Linked DNA regions of Homo sapiens: region 1 is linked to region 2. Evidence: fine-mapped expression QTL. A gene starts in region 2. The other region holds a variant in brackets. All regions are shown on one strand. Distances are between the middles of the regions. Region 1 overlaps CCDC13 (coiled-coil domain containing 13). Region 2 holds the start of ZBTB47 (zinc finger and BTB domain containing 47).

Evidence for each region. PIP is the estimated chance that this variant, and not a neighbour inherited with it, causes the effect.
Region 1: its variant is fine-mapped to the expression of ZBTB47 in whole blood (INTERVAL, PIP above 0.99).

What each region holds. Positions count from the first base shown.
Region 1 is chr3:42,754,588-42,769,881 of GRCh38, forward strand. CCDC13 (coiled-coil domain containing 13) reads right to left here. Exons shown (of 16, transcript NM_144719.4): 2 at 3,538-3,764; 3 at 2,479-2,627. The coding sequence starts at 3,758. Among named protein-coding and RNA genes, the nearest start is that of CCDC13-AS2, 8.4 kb to the right of the region's middle. The variant G/GAA (reference allele first, on the strand shown) is at 12,021.
Region 2 is chr3:42,644,969-42,660,553 of GRCh38, forward strand. ZBTB47 (zinc finger and BTB domain containing 47) reads left to right here and starts at 8,729. Exons shown (of 6, transcript NM_145166.4): 1 at 8,729-8,915; 2 at 13,307-14,860. The coding sequence starts at 13,388. ZBTB47-AS1 (ZBTB47 and NKTR antisense RNA 1) reads right to left here and starts at 9,420. Exons shown (of 3, transcript NR_125400.1): 1 at 9,026-9,420. NKTR (natural killer cell triggering receptor) reads left to right here. Exons shown (of 17, transcript NM_005385.4): 17 at 920-3,767. The coding sequence ends at 1,007. RefSeq lists enhancers at 8,703-9,344, 11,409-11,703, 14,365-15,275, 15,276-15,585 and silencers at 9,350-9,709, 9,750-9,829.

The DNA of each region.
Region 1 (15,294 bases), 110 kb after region 2:
ACCAAAAGCCCTGGATAGGATGTGTGAAGCAGCTACCTGAGGGTTCCGGACATAAATGGTAGCAAGCATATTGGGGAAGGAAACCGGACCTAGAATTACAAATGGTCCAGTGGTACGTTTCCTCCCAGGACTCAAATCAGCACAAATTCTGGAACTGGCTATCAGAAAGAGGTTCAAGAGAAGGTCTTTCTAGTCCAAAGAGCAGGAAGTGGGGCTCAGACAGAATGGAAAAAATCCTCTGGGTATTTTTTTTTCCTATTCTTTCCCAACCCTGTCTCCAGGCAAGCTCTACTGTTGAAGCTGCAACCCCTTGATAAATGGGGGCGGCAGTGGATGGGCAAACACAGAAATGCTAACTATCTGGCTAAATAGAATAGTTTTCCCTTTGGGTTCTTTAAAATACATATAATAGTTGAGCAAAAAGTATAACATTGACTGATGGGATTTTCAATATATATAGATATAATACATATAAAAACTGCAATAGAAAGGGAGAGGTAAAGGGACCTGAATGGTGGTAAAGTTTCTACATTCCATTTGAAGTGGTAAAATATTAGTTCTACGTAGACTATGAAAAGGTAATAAATATTTTGTAATCACTAGATCACTAAAAAACTGTACGAAAAATATAGTAAGCAAACAAAACCCAAAGGAATCACTAAAAATCCAGCCAAAAGAAACCGATCTATCAACTCTCAGTAGCCTGTCACTTGCAGCTCAGTTTAAAAACATAAATGGAGGCCAGTCGCGGTGGCTCACACCTGTAATCCCAGGACTTTGGGAGTCCGAGGCGGGCAGATCACAAGGTCAGCAGTTCGAGACCAGACTAGCCAACATGGTGAAACCCTGTCTCTACTAAAAATACAAAAATTAGCTGGGTGTGGTGGCACACACCTGTAATCCCAGCTACTCAGGAGGCTGAGGCAGGAGAATCACTTGAACCCAGGAAGTGGAGGTTGTGGTGAGCCAAGATCGTGCCACTGCACTCTAATCTGGGCAACAGAGCAAGACTCTGTCTCAAAAAGAAAAAAATTAAAAACATAAATGGGCTTGTCAGATTTTCTCTCCAAAACGTGAGAATGAAAATCAGAAATGGTGACTTCAGAGTGAAGACTGGATTTAAGTGGTTTTCAGGGACGCTTAGGGCTGGCAGTCAGATGAGGCCACAACCAAGTCTGGGCTTTGGCAAAGCTTGCAAGAGACAGTTAACAATGAGAGGGGCTGGGGAAGAGGGAGTAACCCCAGATCTGCTTCCCAGGTCTGCTGGGTGGAGATGTATCTCCTGCTCCCCCTGGAGCCCATCAGCTTCTCTACAGCCTTGCAAAAGTGCAAGTGGCCCCTTCCACAGCTGAATCTGTAACCAGGCTGAGTGTAGGCTTCCTTAGCCAGGCTTTGTGTTTTTTGTTTCAGACAGAAAAGGCCAAAGAATGGAGGGAGGTGCATTAGGCTACCATGAGTCTTTAGGATACCAAATTCCCCTTGCTTTGTAATTCAGCATTGACTGACCAGAGCTTTGGTCCTATGAACGTACCTATCCTCAAACGCATTTACTCTCAAAGGCAAGGACAATAGTCTGGTAGATGCTGAGTCAGCCCTGTTGCTCTCCGTGATTGGTGACATCTATAATACTTTCTTATTTATTAGCCATCTGCGAATTGCTCAATGGGTATATACATAACACAGGACAATCAAGTCCAAAGTCCTCACTACATCAGCAGGGCAAAAGTCAAACTCATAACCACAGAGCCAATGTCCAGCTCACAACCATGATCAAAGGTCATTCCCAGACCTGCAAAGCCAAGGTCCTCACCAGACTCATGGGGCCACCATGAGGTCTCCACCAACACAGCCAAGGTCTAGCCCAGACTTACAGGGCCAAGACCCAGCCCACACCTTGTTGGTGGTTGGGTCCCATGATATCCTCCTAGAACAGGTGACTCATCTACCTTTCTGGAGCAGCAACAGCAGGTGCTGTAGAGTTCATACCTGGCTCTACTGGGGCTTTTTTTTTTTTCAAGACAGGATCTCTGTTGCCCAGGGTTCAGTGCAGTGGGGGTGATCATAGCTCACTGCAGGCTGCTGGGCCTTTTTTATGTTCACAACATAACATGTGAGCCAGTGCACCAAGGAGAAATGGATCCTGCCAGCCCCTTTACATGCTGCGAGCATGATGGCAAACCCTTGTCATGAGTCCCAGCTGGATCACCAACATTGCCTATGATGCTTGCCTGCTGGCCCTTCTGGCCCATTTTTAAATCCCTCATTGCTCCCTGTGCTCCCATTTTCTGGTGGGCTGGCCTCCCTGGGGCTGCTCTTTTCCTCTACCCTCTCCCTCACTTCCAGGACTCCTCTGGACAAGCTTGATCACAACTGACCCTTGGCACTCTCTTGGGAATCTGCTCTCTGGAACCTGCTGTCTGCCCTATCTGAAGTCCCTGGACTGCAGGGCAAGGACTATCACAACAATGGTGGAGCTACCTGTGAAGGCAAATCTGTCCTCTTCTATTTTCTTTTTGAGGTGTTTGATTTCAAAGTCCCTTTCCTTCAGCAGCTTATACAATCGCCCGTTCTCGTCCACCGTTTCCCTGAGCTCATTTCGAAGGTGTTCAATCTCATCTTCAAGCACCCTACAAGGCAAAGGCAGAATTAATGCTCCTCCAAGGCAAAGGCCCTGGTGGGCAGGGGTCAGGCCTCCACTGCCTAGGTGGACAGATGGACACGCAGATGCAGACACACTGACGTGAAAGAAGAAAGATTTCAATGTCGTTCATTAGCTGGCTTAAATAGGGAGTTATAAAAAAACCCACTCATAATTCATATTTCTTTTAAGCATCCATGGAACATGCATAAAAATATATTACAGGGCTGGGTGTGGTGGCTCATGCCTCTAATCCCAGCACTTTGGGAAGCCAAGGCAGGAGTTTGTGACTAGCCTAGGCAACAAAGAAAGACCCTGTCTCTAAAAATAAAAGAAAACAAAATTAGCCAGGCATGGTGGTGTACACGTGTAATCCCAGTGACTCTAGAAGCTGAGGTGGAAGGATTGCTTGAACCCAGGAGCTTGAGGCTGCAGTGAGCTATCATCCTGCATTCCAGCCCGGGTGACAGTACAAGACTCTGTCTCTTAAAAAAAAGTATTATAGGTTATAAAGGGAATCTTAGCAAATTCTAAATAATAACATTATACAGACTATTTTCTCTAATGGCAAGTGACTGTTTTAGAAATCAATAATAAAAAATAGAAATAAAACAAGAAAACCCAAAACTCATCATATGCTTGGAACTAGAAAAACACCCTATACTCCTAAATTATTTATGGGTTAAGAAGAAATCATAATATGTATTATAAAGCATTTAGAATGGATTGACCACAGAAGCTGTATCAAAACTTGTTAAATGCAGCTATAATTAAGGCTCTAAGCTTCCTTCTATCACTTTAGCTGCATTTTACAAGTTTTGCTATAGCTCCGGTGGTACACACACACACACACACACACACACACACACACCCCTGAGAGATTTCAAACTTGCATTTACCTCTTCTCAAAGCTATTTTTCGAGTTTGGCTCCCCTGCGTGGAGAAGGCTGAGGCCATCTGAAACCTCCAAGGGCTCCTCTTGGTCGTCAGCTCTGCTTTTGAGGCTCAGTTCTTTTTCCCTCTTTTTCTCCATCTGCTTCTGTAACCGTTTGTGCTGCATCTCCTGCATTGCCTTGAACTGGAGCCGCAAAGTGTTCTGTGAGCTTTCATCTGCTGCCATCCTGCCCTAGGCATCAGAAATGAAGCCTCAGCTGAAGCAAACTCCACACCGAGCGCTCAGCACACAGTCCGCCCTGTCTGCAGCCCCAGCCTTGGAGTTTACTGCTTCGCGTTGCATGTATGTCCACGCAGAAGCTTGGAAGCTCCACCCTCACCTCAGATCACTAGAAACCCAAGGTTGAACTGAGCATCCTCCCCAGTTCCTGAACATGCCACCAGATTGCACATGGCATCAGAATAGTCTCCATCACTCAGACTCAACACTTGACTCTTGCCTGTCCCTTAAATCAATGGTTCTCAACTCTGGTTGAACATTGAAATCCCCTAGGAACTCCTAAATAACAATGCCTGGGACCATTTCCAGACCAGCTAAATCCCAGTTTCTAGGAACAGGGCTTGGCCATCATTTCTTCTTTTTCTTTTTAAATTCAGGTATAATTCACATGCAATAAAGTACATAAATCCTGACCATACGGCTCAGTGAATCTTTCCATAGACATATACCTCTGTGGTGACCACCCAGATCAAGGTACAGGGCACTTACGGTCCCTGAGCAGGCTACTTTGTGCCCCTTCCAGTGAATCATCCCCCAAGGTAACCATTATTCTGACCGCTACCACCTAAGATTAATTTTGTCTGGTTTCTTTTTAGTCAGTCTATCAAAGAATAATTTATGTACAATAAAATCCACCAGGTTGGGTGCAGTGGCTCATGCCTTGCAATCACAGCACTTTGGGAGGCCAAGGTGAGTAGACTGCTTGAGACCAGGAGTTTGAGACCAGCCTGTATAACATGGCAAAACCCCATCTCTACAAAAAATTGGTTGTGGTGGTGCATGCCTGTAGTCCCAGCTACTTAGGAGGCTGAGGTGGCAAGATCGCTTGAGCCCAGGAAGTGGAGGCTGCAGTGAGCCATGATTGTGCCACTATATTCCATTGTGAGTAACAGTGAGACCCTGTCTCCAAAAAAAAAAAAAACACAAATTTTATGTGTACAAATGAGTTTTGACAAATATATTCACTTGTGTAAACCACCTCCACCATCGTGAAAGAACATTTTCATCACCCCAAAATCCTCCTTTGTGCCCTTTTGCAGTCAATTTCCAGCCAATCCCAATCCCAATCCCAGGCAAACTCTGGTCTGCTTTTGTTCACTACAGTTTTGCCTTTTCTGGAATTTCATATAACTAGAATCATACAGTCGTTAGCCTTTTGTGTCTGGCTTCTTTTTTGCTCAGCACTACCTTTTTGAGATTCATCAATGTCATTGCACACATTATAAGCTCATTCGTTTTTATTACTGAGTAATATTACCTTGTTTAAATAAACAAGAATTTGATTATACATTCACTTGTTATTGGACATCTGAGCTGTTTCCAGTTTTGGCTATTATGAATAAAGCCGTTATGAACATTCATGTATAAGAAGGTATTTGTGTGAATGTATGTTTTTATTTCTCTTGGGTAAATACATAGAAGTGAAAATTCTGGCTTATATGGTAATTTATGTTTAACTTCATAAGAAACTGCTAAACTGTTTGCCAGAGTGGTTGTACCATTTTACATTCTTACTAGCAATGGGAGTCCCAGTTGCGCCATCCTCGTCAGCATTTAGGCTAGTCAGTCTAAATTTTAGACTTTCTCATTAGTATGTAAAATGGTATCTCAGCCGGGCATGGTGGCTCATCCCTGTAATCCCATCCCTCTAGGAGGCCGAGGTGGGTGGATAAACTGAGGTCAGGAATTCGAGACTAGCCTGACCAACATGATGAAACCCCATCTCTACTAAAAATACAAAATTAGCCAGGCGTGGTGACATGTGCCTGTAATCCCTGCTACTCGGGAGGTTGAGTCAGGAGAATTGCTTGAACCCAGGAGGCAGAGGTTGCAGTGAGCTGAGATCATGCCATTGCACTCCAGCCTGGGCAACAAGAGCAAAATTCTTGTCTCTAAATAAATAAATAAATAAATAAATAAATAAATAAATAAATAGGCAGGGCACAGTGGCTCATGCCTGTAATCCCAACACTTTGGGAGGCTGAGGTGGGTGGATCACCGGAGTTCAGAAGTTTGAGACAAGTCTGGCCAAAATGGAGAAACCCCATCTCTACTAAAAATACAAAAATTAGCTGGGTGTGGTGACACAGGCCTGTAATCCCAGTTACTCAGGAGGCTAAGGCAGGAGAATCACTTGAACCTGGGAGGCAGAGGTTGCAGTGAGTCAAGATTGAGCCATTGCACTCCAGCCTGGGCGAGGTTGCAGTGAGCCAAGATTGCGCCATGGCACTCCAGCCTGGGCGAGGTTGCAGTGAGCCAAGATTGCGCCATGGCACTCCAGCCTGGCCGAGGTTGCAGTGAGCCAAGATTGCGCCATTGCATTCCAACCTGGGTGACAGAGCAAGACTCTGTCTCAAAATAAATAAATAAATAAAATATAAATAAATTAATTAATTAAAATAAAATAAAAATAAAATGGTATCTCAATGTGTTTTTAATTTGTATTTCTCTGTTGACTAGTTATGTTGAGCATCTTTTCATGTGCTTGTTGACCATGTGTATATCTTCTTTTGTGATGTGTCTATTCACATTTTTTGCCCATTTTTAAATTGTATTAGACAATACAATTTACAGTCACAATACAATCACTCACTGTTACTGAATGATCAGTTTCTTGTACATTCTTGATACTTTGTCTGTTTGAACTTCACATAAATGAAATAATAGAGCACAGACACTGGAATTATTAAATGCTCCCCTCACGATTTTAAAGTGTAGCCAGTGGTAAGCATCCCTGCCTTAAACCAACCTCAAGCCACATCATCTACCTATCATCCAATTAATCATAAATCTTGTTTATTTTCCATAAATGTCCTAAAATCTGCCCCCATGTCTCCATTCCCACTGATACCAGGCTCATAACCACCTTGGGGTATCTGCACTTGCTGTTACCTCTCCAGGAATGTCCTTCCCCCAGACATCTACCTTACCTACTTCCTCTCAAATGTCACCTTATCACAGAGGTCTCCTCATATCCTATTGTAGAAGGCATCCCTGCCCTCGCTCCCCATGCCCTTGCCCTGTTTTGTCTTCCTCCATGGCACTGAGAGTCATCTGACACATTATATTTTGATTTGTTTACTTGTTGACTGCCTCTCTCCCTCCCCACCAGCTTCACAATGGCAGGCACTGTGTTGTTCATTGCTGTATCCTCAGTGCCTGTAGCAGGGCCTGGTATATGGCAGGCATGGAATGAATACTTGCTGAACAAATGAATAACATTTGCTGAGGGACAAGTTTCTCTAAACCACAGCTCTGAGCCTGACAGACTCCTGTGCAAAAAGCTTCAGCAGATGCCCCTTAGCCACAAAGCCAAGTCCAATGGCATTAAGCGCTTTGGATTTGGCCTCTGTGTCCTTCTAGCCTGTTTTCCCTTTCATAATGCTAACTTCTAGCTAGTTGTGTTGACTTGCTCCTCTGTTCCTATACCTCCTTCTCCCCCCAAGGCTTAAATCTTGCTGGTCCTCCTACACCCAGCATGAATACCATGGTCCTTTTCTGACCCGCCAGGAGGAATACTCTACCTACCCAAACAGCTTCAACTGCTCTATCTGTACCTTCTTAATATACTTATCTCCATCTCACACACAGGGGTGGTCCCAGAGCCTGTACCCAGTTACTCTTAAACTTGCTTCAATACCAAATCCCCAGGATACAATCTAAAAATGCTGATAACCAGGCCCACCCCTAGAGAATCTGATTTAAATTAGTCTGGAGTGGAGACCAAGCATGGGATGGTTTAACTGCTGCCCAGCTGGTTTTAATGTGCTGTGGGCTGAGCCCAGGGTTTGGCAAAGGTCAAACAAAAGCAGAAGCTGGTGTTATGTTGAAATTCCTTACCAGGCAGCTCTGCCCAGTAAGAGGAACTATAAAGAATTAACTCTGAAAACCTGTATTGTGCACACCCGCACATTCCAAAAAACATGTTTGGCCTTTGACCCGCTCCTAAGAGAGAATCTCTGAGCCCTTGGACCATCCTTCCTGATGAGAGTGTTTTTCTTCACCTGGGGACCTTGGGCCATTCCAGTCCATGTTAATTAACAATGTGATTCATTGCCAGGTGCAGGGTAGGCTGGAGGGGGCTGGAGATCGAGTGACTAAGGTCAACTGTACCTACGTAACCATCTCCTAATAAAAACCCTGGACACCAAGACTCAGGGGAGCTTCCCTGGCTGGCAGTACTCCATGTAAGTTGCCACGAATTGTTTCTGGGAGAAGTAAGTACTGTCAACATGACTCCACTGGGAGAAGACAACTGGAAGCTTGCACCTGGTGTCTCCTGGACTCTGCCCTATGTGTCTCTTTGCTGATTTTGACCCGTATTCTTTCATTGTAATAAACAATACATGTGAGTATAATAGCTGGCCCAAAGGCTATATCCTTTGTTAAAAGATAAACGTTAGGCCAGGCATGATGGCTCACACCTGTAATCCCAGCACTTTGGAAGGCCAAGGTGGAAGCACAGCTTGAGCCCAGGAGGTTGAGACTACAATGAGCTGTGATCGCGCCACTGCACTCTAACCTGGGTGACAGTCAGACCCTGTCTCCAAAATAAAAAAAGAAAAACTTTAAACAAATCAAATTTAACAGAATTCAACTGAGCAAAGAATGATTCACAAATCTAGCAGCCCCCAGAACCAGAACAGATTCAGAGTGACTCCAGGGCTGCCACCTAGTCGAAAAAGATTTATGAACAGAAAAAGGAAAGTGATGAACAGAAAGCACAAGTGAGGTACAGAAACAGCTAGACTGATTACAGCTGGCTGTTTGCCTTTTTTGAATACAATTTGAATAGCTGGCTGCCTGTGATTGGCTGAAACTCTGTGACTGGTACAAGAGTAGATTGCAGTCTGTTTAAATTCCTAGTCAGGTTACAGTTTACTACGTACAGAGAAACCTTTAGGCTGAACTTAGAATATATAAGAAGGCAGCTTTAGGCTACAGTTAGTTTAACACATCCCACAGACATTTTTGTTTGGCTCTTACAGAACACTATGTTAGGATTTGAATTTGTTGCCAACATTCAAAGAATTGTAGTTTCAATATCAGATTTCCAGTGTCAACAAAAACAGTCAAACTCTGTAAAATATTTGAAGAGATGTACTTTTTTTTTTTTTTTTTTTTAGATGAAGTCTCGCTCTGTCACCCAGGCTGGAGCGCAGTGGCACAATCTTGGCTCACTGCAACCTCTGCCTCCTGGGCTCAAGCAATTCTCCTGCCTCAGCCTTCTGAGTTGCTGGGACTACAGGCATGCACCACCACACCCAGATAATTTTTGTATGTTTTTGTAGAGACATGGTTTCACCATGTTGGCCAGGCTGGTCTTGAACTCCTGATCTCAAGTGATCCACCCACCTCAGCCTCCCAAAGTGCTGGGATCACAGGTGTGAGCCACTGCACCCAGTCTGAAGAGATTTATTCTGAGCCAAATGTGAGTGATCATGGCCTGTGACACAGCCCTCAGGAGATCCTGAGACCACGTGCCCAAGGTGGTCAGGGCACAGCTTGGTTTTATACATTTCAGGCAGACCTGAGACATCAATCAAATACATTTAAGATATATACCGATTTGGTCCAGAAAAGCAGGACAACTCCAAGGTTGGGAGGGGGGAGCTTCCAGGTGATAAGTAGATTTAAAATTTTTCTGATTGGTAATTGGTTAAAAGAGTTACTATAAATAGAAAGGAATATCTGGGTTAGAATAAAAGAGATAAAAGTTTTGATCATGCAAATGAAGCCTCCAGGTAGCAGGCTTCAGAGAGAATAGATTGTAAATGTTTCTTATCAGACTTAAGGTCTGTGTTGATGTTAAATGTTGGTCAACTTTTCCTGAATTCCAAAAGGGAGGAGGGTATAATGAGGCGTGTCCAACCCTTGCTTCCCATCAAGGCCTGAACTGGTCTTTCAGGTTAACTTTGGAGTGCCCTGGCTGAGAAGGAAGTCCATTCAGATGGATGGGGGGCCTCTGAATTTTATGTTTAGTTTACACCAGCTTCTTTTATAAAAGTTTACAGATCTGGCAATGCTGGGCCCATCGTCCCACACGGACAGCAGCTGCTATGCAGAGAGTTCCTTTGGTGCATAATAGGTTCTTTCCATTAAACCACTGTCCCTGCCACCTCCAGATGCTGCAGCTGGCACATCAGCTGCCCATTATCACTGCACATAAATGTTGTTCTTTCTCTTAAACCTGCTGGATTCACTTTTATTTCCCATCAGCCACAGCAGATGTTTTGGGTTTGTGGCTCCTGCTGTGGATTAAGCCCAGTGGCATCTCAGAGGCTGGCTTCAGCCACTCCTCTACCTGGGAGGCCTTCCTCCCAGGCCTCCCCATCCCAGCCCTTTACCTTCCCACTAACTCCCAGTTAGCCTCTAGGATTCCCCTCAGGGCACTCTGTGGACTCCCAGAATCCCTAGGGCACCCCTTGATCACTAAACTTAACCTCAGTGTATTATAATTATCTATTATTTTATTTACATTACTTCCCTTTACAAAGAGACCTCTTAAGGGCAGGGGTCCTAATACCTTATTCATTTGCTAAATCTCAACATCTTGCCCAGAACAGGCCTTCAACTGTCATTTGTAGAATTGTCACTGAATGAATGAACACAGTAACTTGTAAAGCTTTTCTCCTTTTCTACTCCCAATTTGCACTTGAAGTCACTGAGGAACTGGTACTCATTGAATGTACACTGTGCCCCAGGCAAATTACTTAACCTCTTTGCTTTCGTTTCCCATTTGTAAAATGGGACTCTGATACTTACGAACTTCACAGGGAGTTTGTGAGATTAAGTGGAAGAATGCATGGAAATAATTATCATTATCACTGTATGAAAAGTGGTGCTCTTGGCCCAACGGAGCCTCTGGGATAGACAGTAATGCCTGCACTGAGAGGACACCTGTGGTCCAGACCGGCCCCCAGAGTATTAGTATCTAATCTGTGCTATTCATGAGGCCAGTGGAGATTTGAAATTAATTATCTGGGCTGTGGCCAGGGTGTCTATTTTTATTTTTATTTTTTTGAGATGGAGTTTCACTCTCGTTGCCCAGGCTGGAGTGCAATGGCACGATCTCGGCTCACAGCAACCTCCATCTCCTGGGTTCAAGCGATTCTCCTGCCTCAGCCTCCCGAGTAGCTGGGACTACAGGCATGCACCACTACGCCCAGCTAACATTTTTGTATTTTTAAAGCTTCCCAGGTGAGCCTAACGTTCAGCTGGTTTGAGAATGAGAGGTGTTAAGCACTCTGAGAGGCTGTCTGGGGAGAGAGAAGCTGCAGGAGAGACAGGCATCTCAGTCAATTTGAAGCTGAATGCAGAAGAAATTCACCTGGGTGGGGAAGGGACGGTGCCTGAGTGGGGGGCAACGGGCTCTCCTGCCAGAACAGCATGTGCAGAGAATGTGATGAGTGTGGGGAACTATGAAAGGTTCAGAATGGCCAGAGGGCAGGGCACATTTGGGGAGGCACCAGAAGAAGGGTCTGATCTGCCCAGCTAAGGAGCCTGGACTTTATCCTGAGGCGCTGGAGATGTTCAGAGGGTGCACACAGGATCAGCTTTGCCTTCTGCAGAGCTGGAGGCAAAGGGCCTAGCTAGGAGGGGGTCTCTGGGAAGCCATGTGGGCCTAAATCAAAACTGTAGCAGTGGAGATGGAGGAGGGGGAAGAGGAATTGCTGCCAAATGGAAGGGACTGAAGGCAACTATGCAGAGAAGGAGAGGGGAGAAACCTAGGCGGTTTGGGTTTGAGTGACTGGGGAGACAGCAGGCCCTGACAGAGGAGCAGTTTTCCACGCTGCAGACAAGGTGGTGGACTTTGAGATGCTGGGTGGGCAGCTGGCTGGCTGAGATGCTGGGTGGGTCTGGGGTTCAGAAGGGAAGTCTGAGCTGGAGCCTCAGGTAGTTGAGACCTAGAGTATGAACAAAGCAGCATGAGGAGAAGGTGTAGAGTGAGGAGGTGGGAGAGAGGGAAGGAGAGGGAAGAGGAAGAAGAGACAGCTGGAAGCAAGTAACAGCCTGACGGGTTCATCTTGCCTGCTGTTCAGAAAACCAATGCACTAAAAACAGCGAGTTTTGCAGCAAAGAAAGAGTTTGATGGGCCAGTCAAGTGAAAGGAGGGGAGGTAATTCTCAGATCTTCCTCTCACTGCAGTGAGCCATGATTGCACCACTGCACTCCAGACCGGGGAAAAGAGCGAGATCCTGTCTCAAA[G/GAA]AAAAAAAAAAAAAAACAACCAACCAACCAAACAAACAAACTTCCTCTCCAAGAATATTAGCAAATTGAATCCAATGATGTATTTGAAAAATTATACCACATGACCAAATAGGAGTTACTTTAGGTATGCAAGGCTGGTTTAACATTAGAAAATCAATTAACATAAACCTATCACATCAACAGGCTAAAGGAGAAAAGTCACACAATCATATTAGTAGACACAGAAAAAGCATTTGACAAAATCCAATGCTCATTCATGATAAAAGCTCTAAGTAAACTAGGAATAGAGGGGAACTTCTTCAATTTGATTAAGAACATCTACAAAAAACATACAGCTACCACCATACTTAGCAGTGAGAAACTACACGCTTTACCCCTAAGACTGGGAACATGACAAGATGTCCCTTCTCTCTACTCTCTTTCAACATCATACTAGAAGTTCTACCTAATGGAATAAGCCAAGAAAAGGAAATAAAAGATATATATTTTGGAAAGGAAGAAATAAAATTGCCTTGGTTGCAGATGACTGATTGTCTATGCAGAAAATCTCAAAGAATCTATTAAAAAAAAAAAGAACAAAAAAACTCCTGGAACTTATAAGTGATTGCAGCAAGGTTGCAAGAAGTAAGGTTAATACACAGAAGTCAAATGTTTTCCCACATACTAGCAATAAGCAATGGAAAGCTCAAGTTAAAAATGCAATGCCATTTATATTAACACAAACATTGAAATACTTAGGTATAAATCTTACAAAATATGTGTAAGATCTATATTAGGAGAAATATAAAACTCTGGGAAAAGACTATAAACTATAAAACTCTGATAAAATCAAGAACTAAACAAATAGTTATCTCATGCACATGAATAGGAAGAATGAATATTGTTAAGATGTCAGTTCTTCCCAACTTGATCTATAGATTCAATGCAATTGCAATAAAGAAATCCCAGCAAATTACTGTATGGATATCGACAAATTGATTCCAAAGTTTATGTGGAGAGGCAAAAGATCCAGAATATCCAACACAATATTAAAAAAGAACAAAGGTGGAAAACTGACACTACCTGACCTTAAGACTTACTAGGCTAGGCGTGGTGGCTCACACCTGTAATCCCAGCACTTTGGGAGGCCGAGGCGGGTGGGTGGATCACCTGAGGTCAGGAGTTCAAGACCACCCTGGCAAATGTGGTAAAACCCCGTCTCTACTAAAAATACAAAAATTGCCAGGTGTGGTGGTGGGCACCTGTAATCCCAGCTACCTGGGAGGCTGAGGCAGGAGAATCGCTTGAACCCAGGAGGCAGAGGTTGCAGTGAGCTGAGATCGTGACATTGCACTCCAGCCTGGCCAACAGGAGCAAAACTCCATCTCAAAAAAAAAAAAAGACTTACTATAAAATGATAGTAATTAAGACAGTGTGGTATTGGTGAAGAAACAGACAAATGAATCAATGAAACCAAATAAAGAGCCCAGAAATAGATCCACATAAATAGAGTCAACTGATCCTTGACAAAGAAACAAAGGCAATGGTGCTGGAACAACGAATATCCATATGTAAAAAAGTGAATCTAGACACAGACCTCATCCCTGTCACAAATATTAACTCAAAATGGGTTATATACTGAAATGTAAACTGCAAAACTTCTAGAAGGTAATACAGGAGAAAATCTAGCTGACCTTGGGTTTGGCTATGAGTTTTCATATATAATACCAAAAGCATGATACATGAAACAAAAAAAATTGATAAATTCAACTTCATTAAAATTATAAACTTCTACTCTGTGAAAGATACTGTTAAGAAAATGAAAAGAGGCCGGGAATGGTGGCTCATGCCTGTAATCCCAGCACTTTAGGAGGCTGAGGCAGGCGGATCACCTGAGGTCAGGAGTTTGAGACCAGCCTGGCCAACATGGTGAAACCCTGTCTCTACTGAAAATAAAAAAATTAGCTGGGCATGTTGGTGTGCACCTGCAGTCCCAGCTACTCGGAAGGCTGAGGCAGGAGAATCGCTTGAACCCGGGAGGTGGAGGTTGCAGTAAGCTGAGATCACTCCACTGCACTCCAGCCTGGGCTACAGAGAAAGACTCAAAAAATAAAAAAAAATAAAAAACAAGAAAATGAAAGAAAAGAGAAGCCATAGAGACTGGAAGAAAACCTGCCAGACACATATTTGACAAAGGACTACATCCAACATATACAAAGAATTCTGATAACTTAATAATAAGAAAATACCCCAGTTAAAAAGTGGGCAAGGCCGGGCATGGTGGCTCATGCCTGTAATCCCAGCACTTTGGGAGGCTGAGGTGGGTGGATCACCTGAGGTTGGGAGTTCCAGACCAGTCTGGCCAACATGGTTAAACCCTGTGTCGACTAAAAATATAAAAATTAGCTGGGCGTGGTGGCAGGAGCCTGTAATCCCAGCTACTCAGGAGGCTGAGGCAGGAGAATTGCTTGAACCTGGGAGGTGGAGGTTGCAGTGAGCCGAGATCATGCCATTGCACTCCAGTCTGGGCAACAAGAGTGAAACGCCGTTTCAAAAAAAGAAAAAAAAGAAAAGTGGGCAAAAGATCTGAACAAACTCCTCAACAAAAAAGAAATATGGATGGCAAATAGACATATGAAAAGATGTTCAGCATCATATGTAATCAGGAAATTGCAAATTAAAACAAAAATGAGATACCATTACATACCTATTAGAATGGCTAGAATCCAAAACATTGACAACATCAAATGATGGCAAGAATGTGAAGCAACAAGAATTTCTATTTATTGCTGGTGGGGATGCAAAATGGAAAAGCCACTTTGCAAGACAATTGGGTAGTCTTTTTCAAAGCTAAACAGTCTTGCCATATGATCCAGTGATCATATTTACCTAAATGAGTTTAACAATATATCCACACAAAAACCTGCACATGAAATGTTCATAGTGAGAGGTGACAGCATGCTGGCAGCCCTCGCAGCCCTCGCTCACTCTGGGCACCTCCTCGGCCTTGGCGCCCACTCTGGCGGTGCTTGAGGAGCCCTTCAGCCTGCTGCTGCACTGTGGGAGACCCTCTCTGGGCTGGCCAAGGCCGGAGCTGGCTCCCTCAGCTTGCAGGCAGGTGTGGAGTGAGAGGTGCCGGTGAGAACTGGGGCTGCGCGCAGCGCTTGCCGGCCAGTGAGGGTTCTGGGTGGGTGTGGGCTCCGCAGGCCCACACTCCAAGCAGCCGGCTGGCCGCAAGCCCCTGGCAGTGAGGAGCTTAGCACCTGGGCCAGCAGCTGCTGTGCTCAATTTCTCA
Region 2 (15,585 bases):
TTTGTGTCTTTGTGTGTGTGTGTGTGTGTTCCCAGCATCTTGCAAAATGCCTGGCTCACAGTGAATGTTTTTCAAAATAACTGAATGGGACCCATGACCAGGTCCTCTTGACTCAATATCCCAGTGGTCCTGTTCATGCCCAGGGCCACCCCCACCCCTCATTGGACCCCATTTTGGTTTCCATTCCTTGAGTGAAACTATTTGTGCACCTTTTCCCCATTACTTTTCTCAGGTAATCTATTCAAATATTGATACTCATTTTGGGTAATATGGGGAAACTATTCTGCTCATTGGTTTTTTGTTTTTGTGGTCCCAGCATTTGCATGAATGAATTTCACACAAATTTCCTAAGATGTGATGTTTCTTTATTTTATCTTAATCTTGACATTACTACAACTTGTCATTTAAAACAGCTTCAAAAAGTCCATAGTGTGAGTCGGGCACGGTGGCTCACGCCTGTAATCCCAGCACTTTGGGAGGCTGAGGCAGGTGGATCGTCTGAGGTCAGGAGTTGAAGACCAGCCTGGCCAACATAGTGAAACCCCGTCTCTACTAAATAAAAAAAATTAGCTGGGCGTGGTGGCGGGCACCTGTAATTGCAGCTACTAGGGAGGCTGAGGCAGGAGAATCACTTGAACCCGGGAGGTGGAGGTTGCAGTGAGTTGAGAGCATGCCGTTGCACTCCAACCTGGGCAAAAAGAGTGAAACTCCATCTCAAAAAGAAAAAGAAAAGTCCATGGTGTTGCCATAGTCAGTACCCTACCTCTGTGTTATGCTGCATCAATAGTGCATCAGTTATATGAGTGGCTTGAAAACACTATTGATGTTTTCAAGCCACTCATATAAAAAACAAGCTATAAGAGGAATTCAAAGATTTTACAGTTACAAGATTTTTATATATTTTGTTTTGTTATTACAGGAGTTGTAGATCTTATGGCTCTGACAGTGAAAGTGACCGAAGTTACTCTCATCACCGGAGCCCCAGTGAGAGCAGCAGATACAGTTGAAAACGTCCGGATACAAATTATATCTTATTTGTAAATATCTGGCAACTTAGCTTAAGAAATGTAATGACAGTCTGTTGTTCTATTTCAATATCAGAGGTGAATTTCAAAAATAGACACTTCTTAATTGTTACTGGTTCATTTACATGTGGGGAGAAGAATTTAAAATACAGATATGTCTCCTAAAAATATTTTTATGCCACATTTTACAGTAGCCAACTATGGAAATGAATTTCATTTTCTTGAATCAAGAAATCGTGAAATTTATCTATGTATAATTTGCAATATTATTTTAAGTCTATTTCACTCTATCTTACGTATCCCTTAGAATACAGATTCTTTTTGCCTGTTTTTCCAGTTTTAGCATATATGCTGCCAAGCATAGAACTGTGAAGGAGAACTGTTAAAGGCGGCCAAATATTTATATACTGATTACATAGAGTCTTGTACATATGTGCTCTAAAAACAAACCACCCAGAATTGATACTGTTGGTAACCAGGAGTATAAGGCAGTGGCTCTGGGGTTCTTAATTCATTCCTAACTTCTTTGATACTTCACAGGATTAGGAAAGTGGTCATCATACATCCCACACAGTCTGTATTACTTCAGGCTTGTGGGCAAGGTTAGGAAGAATCAATCAGCCTTAACTATAAATACCTGCACTGTCTCTGAGGACTTACTATTTTATGTTCTTTTTAATCAATACCGATCAGAAGTTTAGGTTATAAAAACAATTCTACTTCATGCTTTGGTGCTTGGTAATTTTTGGTGCGTCTTTAAGCATTACTCTTATATATCATATATTAAAATACCATAAAAATGAAATTCAGACAAAATCACTGGCACCAAAAATGGTTTATTCTGAGCTGTCTTCACTTTGACTATTTGGGGGGCTTCTCTCAAGTACAGATGTGGGTTGGGGTCCCCTGGAGCAGGCAGGATTGGCAGTAAGAGATATTGGCCACTCAAGTCTACTGTGTGTGTGTGCCTCTGGAAGAGTGAAGAATGGACTTCAAAAGTAACATCAAAAATCTAACTGCCACCATCCTGGAGACATTTTGCAGGGCTTTCCTTTCAAGTCTTTCAAGTACAGGATATTACCACAACAGCAGCTGAACTGTTGTAACCAGCATGTTTTTCCTATTTCCACTGTGACCTGCAGCTGACTCAAAGCCTTGCGTGACCTGACCCAGGTGCAAGAGACAGGGGAAGAGGGATAGAGGGTATAGCATAAATTACATATTTTCATGGCTTTGGGTGGTTCCTCCAAAAATAATTGGACCTGTAAAAACTAGTGTGTGTGTGTGTGTGTGTGTGTGTGTGTGTGTGGTTTTTTTTTTTAATCTTTACTTTGAATTTGTTCCCCAAGTGTACTTAATCACCTTAGTGCCAGTTTAATCCAGTTATGCAGAAGAAATTCATATTGGTTGCCTGATGTAGAGCTCAGCACCACCCTACCACAGGCCTTGTCTGGTGTATTTGGGAAGTGGAAAAGAGCCCTCAGTTGGAGGGAGCTGACAACCCTTGGTGGAGGGAGGGTGCCCTTGAATGTATTAAAACTATCACCCAAAGAAGGTATGAAAACAGGGTAAGGTGGTCAGTTGTTTGCCAGGTCAATAGACAGAAAGTACATTAGAAAACAGGACTTAGGCCAAACAAACAATACTGGATACTGAATACAAAACAGTATGATTTATATTAAAGGTTTCCAAAGGTTGCCTGCAAAGGAGAATATTACTACTAGTCAGCAGGAAAAAAATGCATTCAGAACCCAAGCAGAAACTGCCAAATGTAATTAGGTTAAGAAAAGTTACCCTTGGGCAGTGTATTAGTTTTCTATTGCTGTGTGACAAATTACCCCAAATTTAGCAGTTTAAAAAACAATACCCATAGCAGTTCTGTAGCTCATGAGTCTGGCACAGTGTGGCTGGATTCTCTGCTCAGGGTCTTAAAGGCTGAAATAAGGGTTGGCAGGACAACATTCCTTCATGGAGGCTCTGGGGAAGAATCTGCTTCTAAGTTCATTCAGGTTGTTGGCGGAATTCAGTTCTTTGCTGGCTCTCAGCTGGAGGCCCCTCTCTCACCTCAAGGCTGCCTGCATTCCTTCTTATGTGGTCCCCTCCAGCTTCAAACCAGCCTTCCTGCTCTTTCTCATGCTTCATATCTCTCTCCCGTCCTCCTGTTTTAGGGGCATATGATTAGCTCAAGCCCACAGATATATTTTAAGGTTGATTGTGCGATAGAACATAATTGCAGGAGTACTGTCTCATCTCATCATATTCACGGGTTCTGGAGATTAGCTCATTGAAAGTGGGAGGGGCATTTTCAAATTCTGCCTACCACAGGCAATAACTGCCCATCTCAGCTGTAGGTGGAATTTTTACCCAGAAAAGATAGGCCCTAGAAGCCTCATTTCTTTTCTCCATGGAAAAGGACAGCCCTCTGCTGCAGCGTTCAACTTGTGTGTTTACTGACAGAGTGAACTACAGAAATAGCTTTTCTTCCTAAAGGGGATTGTTCTACATTTTGAAGTTATTTTTTAATAAAATTGAATTATGTTGTGTATTGTGCTTCTTAATAGGAAATGCATTATTGGACTGTTTTTGTAACATCCTGTTTATTGCAAATAGCTAGTATCGTTCAAAAACTGTATAAAATACTTTTGTACATATTAGCAATGTCTAATTTGTATACACTTCAGTTAAATTTCCCTAAAACTTGAAAGGGGACCTTGTAGAAATTAAAATATATACTTAGTCTAAGTCTGAGTCTGTTCATGTTTTATCTTTCTGCTGACCCAGCCAGTGAAGACACCTCATCTCCTTTGGCAGCTCCTTTTCTTCTCCTAGCTGAGTGTTAGTGGTGGGTGTAGGAGGTGGAGCTAGAGAGAATGTCAGGCAGAGATTTTAACCTACACAGGTAAGCATTAATGATGTTTGGTCTTCCTCCCCTGGAAAATCCAGATTTCCTCTACACTTTGTTGTCATCTAGTTAAAATGACCTGCATAAAGATGTCTTTGCTGAGGGAGGAATATGTCACATCCCATGTGTGAGTTTCTACCTAGAGACAGTCCATTTACCTACAGCCTCTACATTTCCCTCCCTAACGGCAGCGCACTAGGCAGTGCAGCACATGTCACTCACTCCCAGAGAAAACATTCATGGTGATATTTTTAGTATACACATAAGAATTTGCAGGGGAAGTACAATTAACTTTTGTCTCCTCAGAACTGAAAGGAATGTCTATTTTCTTAGTGAATACAACATAACTTATTGTAGTTAACTTCTCACTGCAGATACTCAGTTTTTAAACTGAGTTAACAGTGGACTCCTTAGTTGGGCAACTCCTGAAATTTGTCAAATCTGGATGCATTCCTTTAAAATGTAAAGAAAATGCAGGATCAAGTTCTGATAGTGGTAAACTTGATAGTTGGGCAGTATTGGGGGGAAAATGTGCCAAGGACTTTGGTCTTGACTCTTCTGAATTAGCTGGGCATTAAATAGGCGGGAAGGTAATTCAAGGAAAATGCCCCTCTTGCAAGAGATTATGGACACTAACTGGGCATCACTGTTTAGAAGAGACGGGAGGTGGCCAGGCATGGTGGCTCACGCCTGTAATCCCAGCACTTTGGGAGGCCAAGGCGGGTGGATCACTTGAGGTCAGGAGTTTGAGACCAGCCTGGCCAACATGGTGAAATCCCGTCTCCACTGGAAAAAAAAAAAGAGGCTCTACTCAGTTTTTCAAGGCAAATGCTGAGCCTTGAAGGAGTGTTGCAAACTAATGTGGTCAGGTGAAAGGATGTGGAAGCCATGCCTCACAAGGTGAAACGGACTGGGTTCAGATTTCCGGAGAACTCTGGTTTTTGGAACAGAGAATCAAGTCTGCTGTTCCCCACAGTGAGGCAAGAGCCTGCAGGCCCATGAGGGCCTTGTGGTAGAATGAGCTGGGAAGACAGCAGGGAGAAGTTCTTTGATGCAGTAAAGGCCCCTCAGGAGTCCAGAGGTGTCAGGGGAGGACGCTGGGTACCCTGAAAGAACACCTGTTCATCTCAGGACAGACTGGGAAGCTTGTCGGGGCCTGGTAAGTGCAAGGCAAGGAGAGCCTGCCCTGGCCACATACACACAGGGCTAGGAGGCTTTAGTGGTCTGTTTTCTTTCAAAGTTTCAGTACAAGGTAGAGATAGTGCTCCCTTGCTGCTGCCTCCACTCCTCACTGTGAATCAGAAGGCCCCAGGTAGGCCTGCTGCCTCTTGGAGACCCCAGACCCACCACTTACTATAGCCCATCAAACTCCAGCTCCCTAGACTGAGCTGAGCTTCACAGCCTGCAGAACCCAGGCTAGCTTGGAGAGGGTTGCATCTCTTCAGCCCAGAGCCTTGAGGACATCAGGGTAAAAGGAGTGGCCACCTATATTTCTAGTGCTTTAGGAGGCCTAGGCAGGAGGATTGCTTGAGGCCAAGAGTTCAAGACCAGTCTGGACAACATAGCAAGACTATTAAGACAAGAACAGAACAAAAAGCAGCTGGGCATGCTGATGCACACCTGTAGTCCCAGCTACTCAGAGGGCTGAGGTGGGAGGATCACTTGAGCCTAGGAGGTGGAGACTACAGTGAGCCATGATTGCATCTCTGCCCAGCTTGGGCAACAAAGCAAGACCCTGTCTGAGAAACAACAAATGGAGTGACCTGAGGTCTCAGGACAAACACCTGCATTCTGCATCTTGAGCCCTGATCCTGGGCCTCCTATGGCTCATAAACCCCTGAAAGAGGGTATACATGACTGGCACACTCAGACATGAGAGACAACCAGGGGTGCTCATCCCTTCCCAGCCTGCAGACGAGTCTGCCTCCCAGTGGACCTGGCCCACAGGGGTTGGGTGTATAGGCTGGCACTTCACCAGCCTCTGGTCACCTAGGACCTCTAGCAACTAAAATCTCCCATCAGGCCAGGTTCCCAGAGAAAGCCTAAGAAGAGTCCCCACTGACCTCAATGCCTCCAGCCTAATTTGGTTTTATTTTGAAGAAGCAGGGGGACTTCTATGAGCAACTATGCTATGGTACAATCGTTAAGGTCTCTGGGCCAGAACCAGGCTGCTTGGGTTCAAGTTCAACTCTGCCACTTCCCAGTTGGGTAACTGGAAGGAGGACAATTTGCTTGACCTCTATAATTCAGCTCATCTGAAAAATGGATGCTAGGGATTCCTCCTCCTAGAACTGTGGTGTATTAAACGTTTAGAAAACCAAGCATACATCAGTGGTTCAGAGGTGGTGGCCCCTGAGGTGGTGACTCTAGGAGAAGTGAAGGAGTCCCAGAGGGTTCATGTGTGGAGCCAGGTTCACTCACTAGGGAGAGGCCCAAGGCCCCCAGAACCAACAGGGCAGGAGAGGATCCTAGAAGCTGCAAGAGAGACGTGAAATGCCAAAGCCATGATGTTTATGCTGTGAGGGAACCAGGCAACCTACCGGTTTGCATGAGGCCCCCAACCCAGGGCAGCTGTAGCCTATTAGTGCTGGGTTCAGTGGAGGCAGAATTCAGGTGTAAACTCCACCCTTAACCCACCCCACACCCTGGGGATTCATGTTTTCCCGCCCTACTAGAACTTTGGGCTTCGGATCAGCGCCTAGTGGGTAGCTTTGAACTTCCCTGCCAGCCCACTGGCCACATGCTGTGCGAGTTGAGTTGCATTGCCTGTATTTTTCTGGCATTGCCCACTCTGCTCTCCCTCTTCCCCAGGCTCAGCTACACACAGCTCCATGCCCTCCGGGCTGACTCAGTCCTGCATTGTTCCCACACACATACGCATACCCACAACCTGGGCTGTTCTTTCTAACTTCAGTGGGGTTGAATCTGGTTTCCCCAACTAAGCCTGGGGACACTCCAGCACTGAGGGTAGATACTTAGGGAAATTGAGAGAAAACCCATGAGCTGTCTTCTAGAGGCAGGGGCATAGCTTTGCTGACCTTGTCAGGACCCAATCCCAAATATGTGAAGGATCACTAAGCTCTGCCCTTGCTGGGTGAGCGTCTCCAGACTCCTGACTCACCCCTGGGGCATGCATTTCTGGCCCAGGAGTCAACTCCCCAATAACTCAGTCCCTCCCTCCAGAAAGCCTGCCTTGACCTCCCTGAAGTGAAGCTCCTACTGCATGCCCCTCATCAGGACCAAGAGAGAAATTCTGCCTCTGCCTAGCTCCACCTGTTCACTCCCACCAACCAGACAACTCCTGATCGATAGGAATCTTGACTCCACTACACCAAATCCCCTCTAGTTCCCTGCAGATGCTAAATTGTCTCCACCTCCTGGCCTTTGCAGGCTTTCTGTCTGGAAAGCCCTTTCACTCCCTCATTGCTCTAGTTAATGTTCAAGTTCAAGCCTCAGCTCTGAGCAGCCCTGTGGGCCCACCAGACAGCTCTTCAAACCACTCCTTCCTGCCAGGTCCAGTGTTGCCAGGTGCCCACAGCTGCTCACAGAGCTCAGGCTCTGCCCTGGGACTCCCCAGCTGATGAGCTGCAGGCCAGAGAAGCAAGAGGGGAACAGCCGAGGCCTTCAGGGAGACTGAGTGCCTCCCCACCACCTGTCCCCTCCCTTCTCACCCAACCTCCAGCCCTTTCTGCAGCTTGACTGCTGGAGCTAAGGCCCCAGCAAGGCCCCATAGGGCCAGCATCACTACCTCAGTCACGCTGGCCACACCCTCTGTCAAGCTTTGGCTTGGCAGTGGGCCTAGCAATGTCCCATGCAGCTCTCTCTGCCAGGCTTCTTCCAGCCCGTGGAGGGGTCCCTTCTCCCCACCTCCCCTTCCCCTGGCTCCTGATGCTGATGCCTAAGTGATTTGTCCCGCTCTGAGCCTCAGAGTCCTTATCCAACCAATGGGCACACAGCCCCTCCCTAACTAACTCCTGGGCCGGTGCTAGGATCCACTGTGAGTCAGATGAGGAAGTGGGCTGGGGAGGAAGAGGCAGAAGGCAGCCCTCAGCGGGCTAGCTGGTCAGAAGCATGTAAGCTGCTCTGGCCTGGCCTTAACCTGGGGCCTCTGGGAGCTGGGCCAGCTGTCTGTGCACCCATGCAGGTACAGGATGTCTGCAGCAGCTGCCAGGGGCTTCCAGATGCCCCAGGTTTGGCCCCTGAGACATTTTCTCCCTAGCTCTGGGATAGCCTTATCCTGAGGCCCTACGTATTCTGGCAGAGAGTGGGGGTGGGGGAGGAGGCCCTTGCAATCTTACAGGACAGACCATCAGGCTGTTTCACAGCACCTGCCTAATACCCTGGTCTCTCCTCCATTTCTCCTCTGGCACCTAGAACCAAGTCACCCTGAGCCAGCGCCAGAGTTCCTGCCCACTCGTGAGTAGGACAACATACCCAGGAGATACTGCTGCAGCTGGACATGGACTTGTATGTAAACACAAGCGCACATATGTGGGGAGGGGTGTGGAATATCAGGATGGGGGCAACATGAGAGTGACCCAGGATGGGCAGTAGTGAGCTTGGGGTAGGAGGAGGGGATGTCCACAGAGGCCTCTCCTCTACAATGGTGGCCCAGTCACCATCCAGACCTTGCCAGGTCTAGTGCCCCGTGGTCCCCACCCTGCTGCCTGCTCAGCCTGGCAGCCTTCCTTTACAGCCTCCTGCCAACAGAGCCAGCCCCCTGCCCCCACGGGTGTCCATGCCAGAGCAGCATTCCGCAAGCCTGGCTGCATCTCCCCAGCAGAGGCTGAGCAAGGGGGCCACTCAGCAGTGGTCAGGTCACACGGCTAGAGGGGCACAGTGGGGCCTGGGCCTCTGGTCCCTACTCCTCTGGTCCCTCTGTCTCCTGGCCCTGGGCCAGTCACCTTAGATGATTTGATCGCTGCGGTTGTAGTCCTGGGATTTAAATCTCCTGCCCTGGGTGGCCCTATGCAGCATGAGGCCGCCAGGTAGGTATGGGTCCACTGGAGCCAAGTCCTGGAGGCACAGAGCAAAATGAGCCCTGCGCCGCCCTGGGATAGGGATGGGGGACTGGACCAGTTGGGGACCCCAGACTCACCCCCAGGTCAGAGCAGCCCAGGCGAGAGGGTGGGGGTGGTGAGCGCGGCTGGGGTGCGGGGTTCAGTCCCTCAGCGTGGGATCCCTCAGGGGAGCGGGTGGAAGCCTTTTCTGTTCGGATCCGGGGCCCGGCGCGCTCAGCTTCCTGATTTCACGGCAGCTTCCTATCCTGGCTCCCCCTCCGTGGCGCAACCGGAGGGCAGCGATGTTTGACTCCCGGACGAACTTCCCGGCAGAAAGGAGGCTCAGCACGGGAGGGTGGGGCCGGGGTCTATCTGCTCGGATATGAGCAGTGGGGACGGGCTGGGGGCTGGAGCTGGGGCTGGGGGTGGAGGGCAGCCTGCGGCAGGGCGGGCTGCACGGGGACCGCGCACACCACGCGTGTCCGCGCCCCCCGCCGGCACGCAGGCGGCCTGGCCCTTTAAGCGTCCAGACGGCGGCCCCAGCTGACGCGCGGGCTCCAATCGGCGCCCCGCGCCCCCCGCCCGCCGCGCCCGAGGCTCTGGGGCCGCAGCTGCTTGGCGCTGGACTCGCCGCGGCCCTGCGCCTCCGCCTGCCTGGCCGCGCCCCCGGGGGCCATGGTCGCGGGGCCCTGCGCGGGGGCGGCCCCCAGCGCGGCGCTTCATGGAGCGGCCCTGGCCTGGCCGCCGGGGGCAGCGCGATCCCGCGGGGCCCTGTGAGCCCCCAGCGCCACGGCACCATGGTACGCAGGGCCCTGCCTGTCCCCCCGCTTATCCGCCCACCTGCCAGCTCTGACCTCCCAGGCACACGGCCCGCGGGCCCGGGTGGAGGGGCTGGAGGGATCTTCCCCCCTCCCCCGGTCTCCCGGCTCCATCTGCTGGGTCCCGCGGGCCGGGAATGCGGCGCTGTGGCGCTGCTCTCGGTGGGGAGGGGGTTAAATTCCTGTGGTGGGGGCGCCGGCGCGCGAGGCTGAGGTCTTGCTAGGCACCGGCGAAGGGGGGCGCTCCCCTGCGCCCGGACGGCGCCGCCCTCGGGCTGGGTAATGGGGGGAAGAGGGAGTCGGATTCCCGCCTGGGCCTTGGGCCACGTGGGCGCTGGAGCCGCCCTGCCTGGGGATTCGGGATGACCCGGGCCAAGGGGGTGTGGGAGGACACCCAGAGCTCCCGTACCAACTCCTGTGTGACCTTGGGCAGATCCCCCGCCCTCTCTGGGTCTATTTCCAAGGGAAAGAGGGGAGGTAAGTGCACAGAGGAGGCTGGCATGGACACTCCCTCACCAAAAGGAGGAGCCTAGAGGTCATGAGCCTGTGCCCCCTTGCTCAGTCTGGGCCCCCCCACTGCTGCCCAGCATAGAAAGAATTGACATGGGAGGGGGGCGCAGATGGACTCCCCAGGTTTCATCATGGGGCCTTCCAGGGAGGCTCTGAGGCAGGGTAGAGAGATGAGGCTTCTCATCAGTGAGGCAAGGTACCCCTCAGGTGTAGAAGGCTCTGACTTGGGTGAGCAGCCTGGAGAGATGTCTGGCACCTGGCCAATCCCCAGCCTGACTTGGGGCAAGGGTTTGAGGGCATGAAACCCCCTGGCAACCAGAGTGCCTGACCACCTCCCTGGTCCTGCATCTTAGCTAGGCTGGAGTGACCTGGACTGCAGCTGGCACAGCCGGATGGGGAGGGGCACGCATTGCTTCCGGGAACCAGCACATCTGGCTGTGGAGGCCAGCACAGCTGGTGGGCATTGTGTGGGAGGGGCCAGACATGGGGGTGGCTGAACCCTGCTGAGGGGCTGCCAATTGTGGACTCGGGCAGCATCTCTGTGCCCAGTCAAGAGAGTCCAATCAGGTCATGAGGTTTAGGGCCCCCCAAGGGCCAAGGATGGTGCTGCCTTGGCTGAGAGTACTACCTTAGCAATGGAGTGTTTGAGAAAGCACTCCCCTCCTTTCCTGCTGAGAGGCCAGAGGGCCAAAGTCAGGCCTCATTTGGCCTAGAGGCCAAAGTGCACATGGGAAGGTTGCCCTTTCCCTGTGGCAGGTGGGCACAGGTGGGCAGTGGAGGGCATTCCATAAAGGGAGAGCAGAGAGATCTGGGGCTCTGTTGCCTGGGGTGGACTTCCCCCAACAGGCCTGGCTTCAGCAAACCCTTATCCAAGCCACTTCTCCTGCCAGTCTTTGGCCCCTGGAGGCCCTAAGGAGCCCCTGTTGCAACCCAAGTTGTACCCTGATCCTTCACTGACCTGCAGGTGCAGTGGCTCTAGGGAGGAGGGAGCAGGTAGAGGGGATAGTGGTGAGTGTGGGGAAGCACGGCTGGTCTCCAGGTGGCGGGATGTTCTCGCTTTTTAAGTCATTAAAGGCTCAGAAATCCAGCCATGTGGGGTCTAGCAAGGAAGGGGTGGTCTTAGCGGAGCTGGGAGTCCAGGGGCTCTGGACTGTGGAACCCTCTCATTCTGAGCCTCGGTTTCTCCATCTGTGTAGTAGGGGTTGGTCCCAGAAGATGAATCAGAATGAGTCAGAGGAGGGAGATGGGAGGGGCTTGGTGCCACGTCCCAGTTAGATTGGCCAGGCCTGGACAGCCTGGGACAGAGGGAGATGGATGGCTTCTTGGCTGGGGTAAGGGGTGTAGTGGAGAACTCAAGGAAGATGGTAGCCTTGGCCAGGGGCCTGGCCAGACTGGGATGTGAGGGAACACAGGATGGCTGCTGCCCTGGCTGCTGGGTGTAGGGGGCAGGGTCCAGGGCAGGCCTGGAGACAGGTGGCCCCTGGTGGCTCAGGGAGGCTCCTGCTGAGGCCCACGGTAGGTTTCTCATTCAGGTGACTGAGAAGTGGAGCTCAACCACCACCACCCCTGCCCAATCCCAGCCTACCCACTGCTCTCCTGGCGATGGAAGGCCTGGCATGGGGAAGGGGGGCGGTAGGCTGTGGATGGATGGGGCCAGGATTCATCCCAGGGTCCCCAGGGAGGCACTGACAGCTATGGAGCTGATGGTTTTGTGGCCATCAAAATATTGTGGCAAGGTACCTCCCGAATGCAGGAGGCTCAGACCTGGTTGGGCAGGCCCTGAGGAGAGCCAGAACTTGGAACCAGTGGTGCTGGTCCAGCTGGGCTGGTGGTTGGTGGATATTAACAACATCTGCACATCACTGTGTGATGGTTCTCGTGCAGGGACTGGGCAGGCTGCCTGTCTGTGCTGCCCACCTTTTGGGGAGGCTGCTGTGGTAGAGCCGGGGTGACTGAGTTGGCTTCTATTCCAGGCAATTCACAGGTGCTGGATGTGGCCCACAGGCCTGATAGTCTGACCCATCAGACATTGAGGGCCTCCGCTAGGGCTCTGGAAGCCCCAGATGGTGTGGCCTCTAAGGCAGGGCTTTCCCAGAGCCTGTGGACATGGACCGTACCTGACCTGGGGTCTGGGGGTCTACCGGGAAAAGGATCTGGGGCAGGCCTTGGGGGCCTCCTGCCTGCAAGCATGGTAGGCAGGTTCCACAGCTGTGTCCTTCCACCCCTGCAGAGCCCCTGAGTGAGAGAGAGCTGCTGGGGGCTAGGCCTGAGGCTGCAGGCAGGGGTTGGGGGCAGCCTGGCCCAAGCCCTGGCTGTGATGAGGAGACCTCACCAGGCAGTGCAGCAGGACCAGAGTGGGGAGAAGGTATAGGCCCTGAGCCTGGATTTCTTCACAGGTTTCAACTTCTGCAGCAGCCACATGGCTGTTGCGATGAGGGGTTCCCTCAGGTGCTACCCCTTGGATTCTGTAGCCAGAGACTGGGCAGTGAGCAGTGAGCCCGGCTTCTGTTCTTGAGGTGTTTGGGGCTGGGCAAGCTTGCTTTTATTGGTATGTGTGAGTGAATATGTGGAGAGAATCCACGGGGCTGAGGAAATGCTGAAGGAATGCCTGTGGCCCTCCTGGGGTGACCACCTGGTCCCGGTGTGCCTGCGATGGTCCTGGTTCTAGCACTGAAAGCCCTGCACCCCAGAAAATGCCCAGGTCCCTGGCAAACCTGGATGGTTGGTCACTGTGGTCTCTCTTTCATCCCCTTTCCTTCCCTTTCCCTTCCTGGGATGACTTTTCCCATTTCCCAGGAGATGACCCAGAGGCCCAGAAAGTGACAGGACCTGATCTTCAGCCTCAGAGGGTCACGAGTGGAGCCTGAGCTCTGAGGCAGCTCACTCAGGCTTGAATCCCTTCCTTGCTAGTTTCGGCTCTGTTGCTGTAAAGTGGAGCCACGAGTGATGGGCTGCCTCCTGGATGGCTGGCAATGCTGGGAGTGGTGCTGGGGGAAGGGCGGGCAGGGGCCCACTGGCCTTGACCCACTCCTGTGCCCTCTGTCCCCGCAGTTGCTGGTTGAGAAGACAACTGACTCCCCGGCGGCTGAGTTCTCGCTGGTGGAGGACGTGGCGCTGCACTTTGCCTGCTTGATGGGCCGCCTGAACGAGCAGCGCCTCTTCCAGCCTGACCTCTGCGACGTGGACTTGGTGCTGGTGCCCCAGCGCAGCGTCTTTCCGGCACACAAGGGTGTGCTAGCCGCCTACAGCCAGTTCTTCCACTCACTCTTCACCCAGAACAAGCAGCTGCAGCGTGTGGAGCTGTCCCTGGAGGCACTGGCACCTGGTGGCCTGCAGCAGATCCTCAACTTCATCTATACGTCCAAGCTGCTGGTCAACGCGGCCAACGTCCACGAGGTGCTCAGCGCCGCCTCATTGCTGCAGATGGCTGACATCGCTGCGTCCTGCCAAGAGCTGCTGGACGCCCGCTCTCTAGGCCCACCAGGTCCGGGCACTGTGGCCCTGGCCCAGCCGGCTGCCAGCTGCACTCCAGCTGCGCCGCCCTACTACTGTGACATCAAGCAGGAGGCCGACACCCCAGGCCTGCCCAAGATCTATGCCCGCGAGGGCCCTGACCCTTACTCGGTGCGTGTTGAGGACGGGGCAGGGACTGCTGGTGGCACAGTGCCTGCCACCATTGGGCCAGCCCAGCCCTTCTTTAAGGAGGAGAAGGAGGGTGGTGTCGAGGAGGCCGGTGGGCCCCCAGCCAGCTTGTGCAAGCTGGAGGGTGGAGAAGAGTTGGAGGAAGAGCTTGGGGGTTCTGGCACCTACAGCCGCAGGGAGCAATCCCAGATCATCGTGGAGGTGAACCTCAACAACCAGACACTGCACGTGTCCACGGGGCCAGAGGGGAAGCCAGGTGCCGGGCCAAGCCCAGCCACCGTGGTTCTGGGCCGGGAGGACGGGCTGCAGAGACACTCGGACGAGGAGGAGGAGGACGACGAGGAGGAGGAGGAGGAAGAAGAGGAAGAGGAAGGTGGTGGCAGTGGACGGGAGGAGGAGGAGGAGGAAGAGGGTGGCAGTCAGGGAGAAGAGGAAGAAGAGGAGGAGGACGGGCACAGTGAGCAGGAAGAGGAAGAGGAGGAGGAAGAGGAGGAAGGGCCTAGTGAGCAGGATCAAGAGAGCTCTGAGGAGGAGGAGGGGGAGGAGGGGGAGGCTGGGGGCAAGCAGGGGCCACGGGGAAGCCGAAGCAGCCGGGCAGACCCCCCTCCCCACAGTCACATGGCCACACGGTCCCGGGAGAACGCCCGGCGCCGGGGTACCCCTGAACCTGAAGAAGCTGGGCGGCGGGGTGGGAAGAGGCCAAAGCCACCCCCTGGAGTGGCCTCTGCATCGGCCCGAGGGCCGCCAGCCACTGATGGGCTGGGGGCCAAGGTGAAGCTGGAGGAGAAGCAGCACCATCCATGCCAGAAGTGCCCACGAGTTTTCAACAACCGCTGGTACCTGGAGAAACACATGAATGTGACCCACAGCCGCATGCAGATCTGCGACCAGTGCGGCAAGCGCTTCCTGCTGGAGAGCGAGCTGCTGCTGCACAGGCAGACAGACTGCGAGCGCAACATCCAGGTGGGCCTCACGTGGCTGGGGGCAGGGCAGAGGCTGTCCAGGTGGGGCTAGGCCATAACTGGGCTCTGGGCACCTAGTGTCTTGCTGACTGCATTACCTAGGTGGTCTGCGGAGACCAGACTTAGCCCCCAGACAGGCTGGCCCAGGCCCAGTTCTCAGGGTGGTTAGAGCTCAGGGGTAACATCAAGCCGAGCTTCCTGGGAGAGGTGGATAGAGTTGGGCGCATGAAGAGATGTGCAGAGGATTGGAACAAACAGTACCCTTGGCCAGAGGGACAAAGGGGACACATGGACTTGGGAGGATGAGAGTGGAGAGTTGTCTGAGCAGACAAGGCCAGAAGACAGGCCACTCTGGGTGGGATGAGTCAGACGGGGTTTTAACAAACACGGGGGCTGTAGGAAGGCCAGCAGGGCCACTGTGTATAGTTTCACAGGTTGTGCACTGCAGCAAGTGAGCACACGATGGGAGGAGGGGTTTGCCCAGAGGGATGCCATCCTCCACTTCCCACAAAAGTGCTGTATGGAGGAGGGGGCAGCCCAGCAGGAGGCAGCCCCCACTTTCAGCTCTTTGGGGATGCCAGCTCCCATGGGCCTGGGAAAAAGGGATTGGGTGAGAAATTTGGGAAGAGCAGAGGCTGCTGGGGTAAGCAGGGGAGCTGAGCTGGCTGCTGGGCCTTGAGCCAGCCTGAGTCTGTTTGTGCCAGCCTCACTTCTCAGGGTGGGGTG